Regions from separate parts of the Homo sapiens genome. Here region 1 is linked to region 2. Evidence: fine-mapped expression QTL. A gene starts in region 2. The other region holds a variant in brackets. All regions are shown on one strand. Distances are from middle to middle.

Region 1 (5,372 bases), 24 kb before region 2:
TCAAGGAATCCATGATTCTAAAGGGTGATTCAGGGAGAGATGCAAGCAGCAGGTGTGTACACATCCTTCCAGAGAGGGAGGCAGGCTGGGAGGAGACATAGCTAATGTGGCCAGGGGGCAGACACAGAGGCAAGCCCAGCAATGACGCAGGAGAGACGCGGGCCAGTGGTGGGCGGGGGAAGGCGCTCTGGCGGACAGCAGCTGCGTGGCCCGCCGGGCACCTCTTCCCCTGCTTTTTGGCTAACGAGGCTTTAATTTCCCTTTGGGAAACAGCTTACCTGCCTATCCACTGAACTCTGCCCTGCACTGTGGACACGCCAGCACATTCTCACCTCCATGCTTTGCCCATGCCATTTCCTCTTCCTGCCTAGCTCAGTCTGTCCAAATCTCTTCTGTCCTAAACTCCATGTCAAATGCTGCCTCCTCAAGGAGTCTCCCTCACGGTCTCTTATTAGAAGAATCTCTCCTTATACGCACTCCTCAGGCCCCTCCGTTACTGCACTTGAACGCAGCTGCCTGGGGAGGTTGAACTGCAGAGTGTCGGGTGTGTGTGTTTTTGTTTTGTTTTGTTTTGTTTTGTTGAGATGCAGTTTCGCTCTTGTTGCCCAGGCTGGAGTGCAATGGCATGATCTCAGCTCACTGCAACCTCTGCCTCCTGGGTTCAAGCGATTCTCCTGCCTCAGCCTCCCAAGTAGCTGGGATTACAGGCATGCACCACCACACTTGGCTAATTTTGTATTTTTAGTAGAGATGGGGTTTCTCCATGTTGGTCAGGCTGGTCTCAAACTCCCAACCTCAAGTGATCCGCCTGCCTCAGCCTCCCAAAGTGCTAGGATTACAGGCATGAGCCACCGCGCCCAGCTGAGTGTGTGTGTTTTAAAGTGTAAGAAGCTGCGGGAGCCTCCCTGCCTGGGTGGACGCCAGAGGTCACCCTGAAGCAGACCTTACTTGTCTTTTCTGAAACTTCGGGTACCCCCGCATTGGTTATGCAAAGGTAAGGGAGCAGCTGCTCGTTACCCTAAAGGAATATGGTATTAGGGGCCTTTGCGGGGCTGACATAGGCTCCCCCTCCCAATATTCTCCCTATGCAGAACTGGTCTCAGAAAACATGATGGGCAAATTTGCCCAGGGGGCAAGAAGACTTCAGAGAAGATAGGAACCTGGGCCCCTCCCTTTCCTCCTAGGGCTGACGATGTTAGACTGGACATTCCCTAGGAGTCTGCTGGCACAAGAGATGCTAAGGCTCCAAGGGGAGCTCACCAGAGGTCAGGGTCAGGGTCAGGGGTAGGCAGGAGGGTCTGAACTCATGATCTGGCTCAACGCCAGCCCAGAAGTCCATAGCTAAGTCCATGGCTTGGGCCAAAAGTCTCCTGGGTCCAAGACCCCCAGCAGGGTGGGGAGACTCTGGGAACAGTGGCCAGCATAATGAAAAACAGAAGAAACCTCTGGAACCTGCACATGGGGTCTTGCATAGCAGCTCCATGGTGATGGCGGTCCCGGATGTACCAGAGTGGGCAGCCCTGATTTCCCTCTCAGTGCCACGCATCAGTGGCAGAAAACTGGGGCCAACTACTGGGTGAGTGGGGCCCAGGTCTCTCTCTTCTGCCTGGCAAGGGAGCTTAAGCCTAGAGCAAGCTGGTCTTAGACAGTTGGAGTGTAAGACAGGCAGAGGAGGGCTACACTAGAGTTCTTACTAAACAAGCCATTTCGGTGCTTAAACAATGAACTAGGGAAAAAAGAATACAACCACAGCTCCACCCAGAACAGTGAAGCAGTCCCACCAGTAGCATCCTCATCCTCCGCACAGGCTGACCTGTTTTTAAATTAGGGTTGGGGCTCCACCATTAGACAATAAGGTCTTTGAAACAGAACAGTGCCTTTATCTCCATTTCCCCTATAATATTTTGCAGTGCAGTAAATGTACAATAGATTTTTGTTGGAAGAAAGAAAGGAAGGATGGATGGAGGCTGGGAGGGAGGGAAAGTGGGATCGTAGGTTGAGGAGGTCACAAAGGAGGGAGCTATTGCAGCGGGACTAGTAAGGGCTGGCTTCCTGGCAGAGGTGGCCTGTGAGGGGCCCTGAAGGAGGAGCGCCTGAGAGGATCATTTGAGCCTAAGCCTTCCTGGAAACTGCTCTTTCTGGGCCCAGAGTCTCTGCAGCACATCAGGGACTAAGGTCTCAGCAGGAGCTGTCCCCATGACCCCTACCCCCACTTCTTGTCCTCAGCTACT[C/T]AGTAATTCTATAATTTGGAGGTTCATCTCTAAAAAAAAAAACATACAGAAATATCTTACTTTTGCAAATTTTACAAAATATAGCAAAAACATCTCATGAGGTGAACATTGCTGGGCTCCTCCCGGGCCCCAGGCTTAAGGTTCACTAACTTCCCAGTACGGCGACCTCTGCCCACAGGACTCCTCCCCTCCACCTGGGCCCCCACCATGCCCAGACTCCCCTCTAGCTGGAGTCGCTGGGCGGTGGCTGCTAAAGGCCTCTGGGACCCTGAGTCAAGCTGACCTGAAAGGCAAAGACATCCTTGACCAGCGCCTCCCCAAACACGAAGCTGGAGCCAGCCTTCGTGTAGCTCAGGAAGATCTGAAAGAAAAAAGCAAAACAAACAAAAACAGGCAGTGAGGCTGGGAAGGGAGGAGGGAGGAAGCAGCGGCCAGAGACAGGCGGGTTGGCCCAGGGACGTAGTCCCCCCAGGCCCTTATCCGGGGGGGGGCACCACCTGGCAAGGTGCGTTAAAGCTGCTGTCACGGGCACTCACTCCTAAGCATATTTGCCAAAGAGACACCTTTTTGGTCAATTTTAAAGATATGCTCTGCAGGCTGGGTGCAGTGGCTCACACCTGTAATCTCAGCACTTTGGGAGGCTGAGGCAGGCGGATCACCTGAGGTCAGGAGTTCGAAACCAGCTTGGCAAACATGGTGAAACCCCATATCTGCTAAAAATACAAAAATTACCTGAGCATGGTGGTGGGCACCTGTAATCCCAGCTACTTGGGAGGCTGAGGCAGGAGAATCGCTTGAACCCGGGAGGCAGAGGTTGCAGTGAGCCAAGATTGCGCCACTGCACTGCAGCCTGGGCAACAGAGCGAGACTCTGTCTCAAAAAAAAAAAAAAAAAAAAAAAGAAATGCTCTGGGAGTTATTAGGACAATAAAGAAGAGATAACAGAAGAAGTAACCATGAGACATGTGAAGAAGGCAGTGCCTCTTGTGCCGCTCAGGCCCCTGACAACCAACGGCAAAGTCTCCCCTCATCTTGTCCCCATCCCGGGCTTGTGGCCTTGGAGTCTGAGCCCAGCCATGCTTCTACAGGAGACCTGTGTTATATCCTGAACTTGCAATGTGACTGCAGGGGCAGCAAGTCATTTCTCTTGTTCAGGCCTCAGTGTTCCCATCTATAAAATGGGGACATGACCAGAAAAGAAACTCTCTGTCTTTTCCTCCACACCCTGTACAGTTACTGTCAGTGAGGCCAGCAGGTGTGCACATTCCTGGACCGGCAGGGTTCTCATGCTCCACCCTGCACAGAGCACAGGGAACTGCAAGCTGGTGAGAGGGAGGTGAGTAGATTAACATATTTAACCTATGTCCTTGATGATTTATATTTTTTAAAGTGGTAAAAATACAAAAATTAGCCAGGTGTAGTGGCTCATGCCTAGAGTCCCAGCTACTTGGGAGGCTGAGGTGGGAAGTTCCCTTGATTCCAGGAGGTCGAGGCTGCAATGAGCTAAGATCACGCCACTGCACTCCAGCCTGAGTGATGGAAGTGAAATCCTGTCTCAAAACTAAACTAAACTAAACTAAACTAAAATTAAAAAAAGGCCAGCATGGTGGCTTATGCCTATAATCCCAGCACTTTGGGAGGCCAAGGCGGGCAGATTACTTGAGCCCAGGACTTCAAGACCAGCCTTGGCAACATGGTAAAACCCCATCTCTACCAAAAATAGAAAAATTAGCTAGTCTCATAACCTGGTTTCAAAATAAATAAACAAATAAATAGATTTAAAAAAAATTCTAAGTGTTAAATAAAGGAGACCATTAGTTTAGACTGAGCTCCTGCACTACTCCCAACAGACCAAACCACAATGGAATCACTCATGCTATAAAGTTCCACATCACAAGTCAAAACTAAGCTGTCTTCTGACCTTCCAAAAAATCAGGAGAATGAGACAGATAGCCAAATCCCCAAATGCAGCATGACAGGCAGTCCCCTCAGCTGTGACCTTTATAAGGAAAGTGACCTTGAAACAACCAATCTGCTATTTATTTTCTGTTTCTGCTTTCTTCAGCCTTTCTCTGTCTATAAAGCCAACCTCCTCCACTCAACTCATCGGAACACCCACTCTATTTTTATAGAATGAGGTGTTGCCTAATTCTAAAATCACAAATAAAAGCCAATTAAGATCTTTAAACTAAATTTGTTCTAATTTTCTTTTGACAAAAGTAAATCATGATAGTTGCAAAACAAGTGTGCATGAATTTAATGATACTTAAAGGGGTTAAAATGGTTGATTTTATGTTATGTATATTTTACCAAAATAAAAAACAGAATTGGCTGGGCACCGTGGCTCAAGGTGAGATCACTTGAGCCCAGGAGTTTGAGACCAGCCTGGGCAACATAGGGAGACCCTGTACCTAAAAAAAAAAAAGAAAGGAAGGAAGGAAGAAAGGAAGGAGGGAAGGAAGGAAGGAAGGAAGGAAGGAAGGAAGGAAGGAAGGAAGGAAGGAAGAAAGAAAGAGAAAGAAAGAAAGAAAGAAAGAAAGAAAGAAAGAAACAAACAAACAAACAAACAAACAAACAAACCATGTTTTAATTAGCTTGGCATGGTGGCTTACACCTGTAGTCCCAGCTACTCAATACTGGGGAGGCTGAGGTGGGAGGATCACTTGAGCCCAGGATGTCAACGCTGCAGTGAGCCATATCCACACCACTGCACTCAGCCTGGATGTCAAAGCAAGACTGTCTCAAAACAAAACAAAATGGGCCCAGGTGTGGTGGCTTACACCTGTAATCCCAGCACTTTGGGAGGCCGAGGCAAGCGAATCGTCTGAGGTCAGGAGTTCGAGACCAGCCTGGCCAACATGGTGAAACCCTGTCTGTACTAAAAATATAAACATTAGCCAGGCATGGTGGTGGGAGCCTGTAATCCCAGCTACTGGGCAGGCTGAGGCAGGAGAATTGCTTGAACCAGGGAGGTGGAGGTTGCAGCAAGCCAAGATTGCACCACTGCACTCCAGCCTGGGTGACAAAGCGAGACTCCTTCTTGAAAGAAAAAAAAAAAAAAGAACAAAAATGTATAACTTCAATAAACGTTATTTTTAAACACACACACACAGAAGTAAATCATTTGCAGATTTGGGTTTTT
Region 2 (5,372 bases):
GGGCAGGGCCCAGTTTAGGGGCCCGGGGAAAGGGGAGAGGACTGAGTGGGGGGAGCAGATGCCTGGCACAGCCAGAGCCCTGCCTGGGGGCCACCTATGCCATCCCAGAGCTCACCCCTCCTTGTGACTGGGACTGCAACCTTGACTTCTCAGCACATGGAGGAGGTACCTCTTCCTTTTTCTAGAGACTGGGTCTCCCTGTGTTGCACAGGCTGGCCTCCAACTCCTGGGCTCAAGCAGTCCTCCCACCTCAGCCTCCCAAAGTGTTGGGATTACAGGCGTGCGCCACCACCCCAGCCTGCACCCACATCTGAACCTGTAAGAGGCAAGTCCTTGTGAACTCTGGGAGTTCCAGGCAGAAACAGCAAATTCTGCCCACTTCATAGGGAAGGAAAGTAAAGAATTATATACAGCCTGCATATGTATCTGATACAGGCATTTTTCTGAAGAGAGGACCTAGCTTTCATCACTCCCTACAACTGGTTAAAACTATTACCATTAAGTGAGATCTTCAGTGTATTCTACTTTTCCATCTCTGAAAGATGGAGGTGCAACATCCTTAAAGGCATCATTCCAGTTCCTGGATCCAACTATACCTGAAACCAATCCTACTCCTGGACTTTCCATTGCAAGAATCAATATAGTTCATTTTTTGCTGAAGCTCAGTTCGTAGGCTTAAGCTCATCTGTAAATAAGAGTGGTAACTAACACCTCCTCTCTCCCTTCTCTTGTTCCCGCTCCTTTTTCTCCCCTTGGGTGGTGCCCTACTCCATCCAAATGCCAGCCCAGTTAGGCTGACATACTCAGAGACCCGTGCATGTGCGTGCACACACACAGGCAGAGCCTGGGAATGCCCTGGCTCACACACAGACGCACAGCAGCGCACACAGAAGCGGGGCCCTGTTTCTACTCACGTATTTGCGGTTAACAGGTCGCTCTCAGAGAGAGAGGGAAGCACACGTCTCTGTGGGGACAAGCTGGGTCCAACCTGCTTTGGCTCTGGCTTGCCTTGTCACTTCAGCAGAAATTCCTGGGCAGAGTCCAGGGTCGGAGTAGGTTGGGCCTGCCACCCAGTTCTGCCCAGCGCCTCCCCAGAGGCCAGGGCCACAGCCAGGGTGGGGACCCCAACACGGTCTCAGGGATACAGGAAGCAGGCCCACTTGCAACCTGGCTCCCTGCAGCTCCTGCCCACTGGCTGCTGCTTCTCCATCAGAGATGCCCTCCTCTGCCCTCTCCCCAGTTCCCAAACTGACCTCTTCCAGGCCTATTAGGGCCGCTTCTTCCAGGAAGCCACCTATGTGATTATTTCCCTCCCCCTCCTTCCTTCCCATGGCCTCCTTTCCCCAGCCAGGCTGTTAGCTTTTTGCATTTTATCTTTCATTTTGCATCTTTCTCTATCTCCCTTTCTCACTAGATGGGGATTTATTATAACAGCAACCAATTTTCCTGTGCTGGAAAATGAGGAAAGCAGTGTAGCTGTGAGAAATAGTAAAAGTGTTTCAGGTCTGTCAAGAAAACAAAACCAAATCACACCATTTCCCCTTCATTTCATCTTTGTTAAATGAATACCTAAGCCAACGGTGTGCAAAGCGAAGGGCTGAATGCTTTAGTTTTCCAGTCCTCACACTAAACATTAAACTCATCTGACGGGATTCACAACATCTCTTTAATAATTAATGGTACGCGCTCAGGACAAAATCCTCTATGATGCATAAATACTTGCTAGTACCGGCACCTCCTGGTTGTTTTGGAAGTTTGGAGAGGATGGTGGATGGACACCCCCTCTTTTTGAAAACATTTTTTCTTCATCTGTCATTTGAATTACCAAAGCATTACAAGTGTATCATTAAACATTTAAACATTAGAGAAATATACAGAATGAGGGAAGTTAAAGTCCCCGGAATCTGAGCCCTCAGGGATGACCACTATTGAGTTTGTGTGGCATTTTCCTCCTTTTTTTTTTTTTTTTTGAGACGGAGTTTCACTCTTGTTGCCCAGGCTGGAGTACAGTGGTGCGAGCTCGGTTCACTGCAACCTCCGCCTCCCAAGTTCAAGCGATTCTCCTGCCTCAGCCTCCCAAGTAGCTGTGATTACAGGCATGCGCCACCACACCTGGCTAATTTTGTATTTTTAGTAGAGATGGGGTTTCTCCATGTTGGTCAGGCTGGTCTCGAACTTCCAACCTCAGGTGGTCCACCCACCTTGGCCTCCCAAAGTGCTGGGATTACAGGCATGAGCCACCGCGCCTGGCCTTTTCTCCACTTTTTTTTTCCTAAATGTATGTTATTTTATGTTATTCATTTTCCAATAGGGGATCACACAGTAACAGTGTTCTCATAATTTGATTTTTCTAGCAGAGTTCCGCACACTGTTGAGAGCCCATGTGTTACCTTGATTGAAAACTAGCCACAGAGCAAGACTCTACCTTTAAAAAAAAAAAAGAGGGGGGGCACGGTGGCTCATGCCTGCACTCCCAGCACTTTGGGAGGCCAAGGTGGGCAGATCACTTGAAGCCAGGAGTTCGAGACCAGCCTGGCCAACATGGTGAAACCCCGTCTCTACTAAAAATACAAAAATTAGCCAGGCATGGTGGCAGGTGCCTGTAGTCCCAGCTACTCGGGAGGCTGAGGCAGGAGAATTGCTTGAACCCGAGAGGTGGAGGCTGCAGTGAGCAGAGATCACACCACTGCACTCCAGCCTCGGCAACAGAGCGAGACTCTACCTCAAAAACAGAAAAGAAACAAAAACTAAATGCCTCTGAGCAGCACTACTGTCTCCATGGGTGGCCACCACAGGGATGGGCCTGGAGCTGTCCTCGAAGGGGTCTTCGCCAAGCCCTAGTGAAGAAAAAAAGGACGCTACCTGCTTTTCCACTTTGCCCTGTGCTACCCCCTTCCCCTCCTTTCTTCAGTCCCGCCTTCCCTCCTCTCCTACTGTCCTTTTCTCTCACCCTTGTTTCTGTCAGCATCCAGAGGGAAGCCAGGAACACAACACATCCAGCAGCAACCATGCAGTGCAGCTTATAACCTTCACATCGTTGTGGGCCCTAATCTCTACAACAAGGATTTAATGGGCTGTGTGTCTTGGGGTGGACCTTGAGCTTGGAGCCCAAAGGTCTCCACTCCTGACTGCCAAAGTTAACTTGCTGCCTCATCTGGTGGTGGGTAATAGAGCACATGAGGAGTCAGCGTGCTCCTGCTTAGGAAGTACCTGGCAGGGAGTCAAGCGGCATCAGGCTGGCAGGTGTCATTGCTGTCACAGGTCCCATCCGGGGTGTCCTGACACACTGCTCCCCTCCTCCAGGCCAGGAGACTCCGGGCTTCTCCCCTGCTCCTCCTCTCAAGGAGGCATGGCCAGCAGGGATCCCAGACCCCAGAAGCCAAGCGGTCTTTTCAGGTGGAATGTGGCAAAAAGCCACAGGCTGGGGAGTTGGGAGGCTGGATAGATTGGGGTGGAGACCCCAGGGAAAGACCAACAGCTGGAGGACCTCAGGTGTCCCGGCTGTGCCCCTCCAGCTGTGGGACCTCAGCATGTCCTTGGGCTTCTTGGTGGCCTGTTTCCTAAGGAGACAGCCTCTGAGGCCCGGCACACCCGCAGACGCCCGCTGAGTGAGACCTAGAGCTGAGCCAGGCCAGGGCAGAGTGGGGAGAGGACCACATAAATATACATAGATAATTTCCCTCACCATCCAGCAGAGCTCAGAAGGGTTGACAGTAAAGGGGCTGCTCCACCCCTCCAACTCTATCCCATTCCTCAGAGGCAACCACCTAACTTTTCTGGTTTTAGTTCTTCTGCAGGCCACCTCCTGTTTTAGGGAATTATTAGTCAAAGAGTTGGAGAGGATCCCTTCTCGCCAGGCTCTGACATAATAGGTTATTTTATAAGTAGTGAGTGAAACATTCAAAAAGCACAAGAACTGTCAGAAGAGTTGCTCAGCAATCTCTTTATTTTCTTCTCATGATTCTGCCCACACTCATTTCTTAGCTCTTCACAGGCGAGGTCTCTTTCATTGCATCGATTCGTGTATCCAAGCACTGGACAAATAAAGAGGCTTATCACTCGTCAAGTTCCATGAACATGACCTCATCATTCTTCTCTCCTAAACCTGGGATGATTGGCAGAAAGGGCATCCATACAACTTTTTCTTCTGCATTTGGCATTGAAAAATGGACTTCCCGTAGTCTGTAGTAGAAATATTGGAAAGTAGCAATAATCCTAGCACTTTGGGAGGCCAAGGCAGGTAGATCGCTTGAGCCCAGGACTTCAAGACCAGCCTGGGCAACACAGGGAGACCCTGTCTCTACAAAAAATAGAAAAAATTAGACAGGTGTGGTGGCGTGCACCTGTAATCCCAGCTACTCAGGAGGCTGAGGTGGGAGGATCATTTAAGCCTGGGAAGTCAAGGCTGCAGTGAACCATAATCACACCACTGCACTCCAGCCTGGGCGACAGGAGTGAGACCCTGTAAAAAAAAAAATTGATGACATAGAGCTAAATACAAAGACTAAAGAAATATCTTGGGCTTTTATACTCTTTGCTTGTGACTCTTCTAGTTTTCCTGTGGGAACGGACTAGCCCAAGTGTTAGAGCACACTGCTCTCCCGGCAACTACAGAGCTAGTTCAGCTGGTCCCAGGGGAAGAAAGCATTCCAGTACCCCAAAGGCTGGAAGCCCCCAGCCTGCTTGGCATGATTATCCAACGGTTTCCGATATAGTTTACTCCTTGACCCACTCTACTCACTGAGAACATCTGGGCACATGTGGTCATCATCCAATACAAAATGGAAGGCCGAGTCTGGGGCTCATCTACGGCAGCAACAAGAGGCCTGGTAGAATTAGGATGCCGGGTCCCACCTGCAGGAGTGCTTAAGGCCACCAGGCAGGGCGAATTTTACCCAAGCAGTTCAGAGCTCACTGTTCCCAAATATTTAATATTTAATTGATTGTACTTAAAAAGTGTATTTCCCTTGTTGTTCTTTTTACCTTCTATTCCTCTTGCCTCTCCAGCTCATATTAGCATTTTATTTATTCATTTATTTTTTTGAGACAGGGTCTCACTCTGTCTCCCTGGCTGGCGTGCAGTGGCGCAATCTCAGCTCACTACAGCCTCGACCTCCCACCAATCCTCCCACCTCAGCCTCCAGAGTAGTTGGGACTACAGATGTGCACCATACGCCAGCTAATTTTTTTTTCTTTTTTAAAAAATTTCATCCTGGTTGTTCTAATATTTATTTATTTACCTATTTTGTAGAGACAGGGTCTTACCATGTTGCCCAGGTCTAGAACTCCTGGGCTCAAGTGATCCTCCTGCCCCGGTCTCCCAAAGTGCTGGGATTACAAGTGTGAGCCACTGTGCCCAGCCTCATATCAGC

What was found. PIP is the estimated chance that this variant, and not a neighbour inherited with it, causes the effect.
Region 1: its variant is the best candidate, but not a certain one, in a credible set for the expression of SLC28A1 in nasal epithelium (TOPMed, PIP 0.86).

The regions. Positions count from the first base shown.
Region 1 is chr15:84,905,938-84,911,309 of GRCh38, reverse strand. It overlaps SLC28A1 (solute carrier family 28 member 1), which reads right to left. Exons shown (of 19, transcript NM_004213.5): 9 at 2,515-2,592. Among named protein-coding and RNA genes, the nearest start is that of SLC28A1, 24 kb to the right of the region's middle. The variant C/T (reference allele first, on the strand shown) is at 2,232.
Region 2 is chr15:84,882,330-84,887,701 of GRCh38, reverse strand. SLC28A1 (solute carrier family 28 member 1) reads right to left here and starts at 3,040. Exons shown (of 19, transcript NM_004213.5): 1 at 2,951-3,040; 2 at 915-1,030. RefSeq lists enhancers at 2,960-3,460, 3,461-3,961.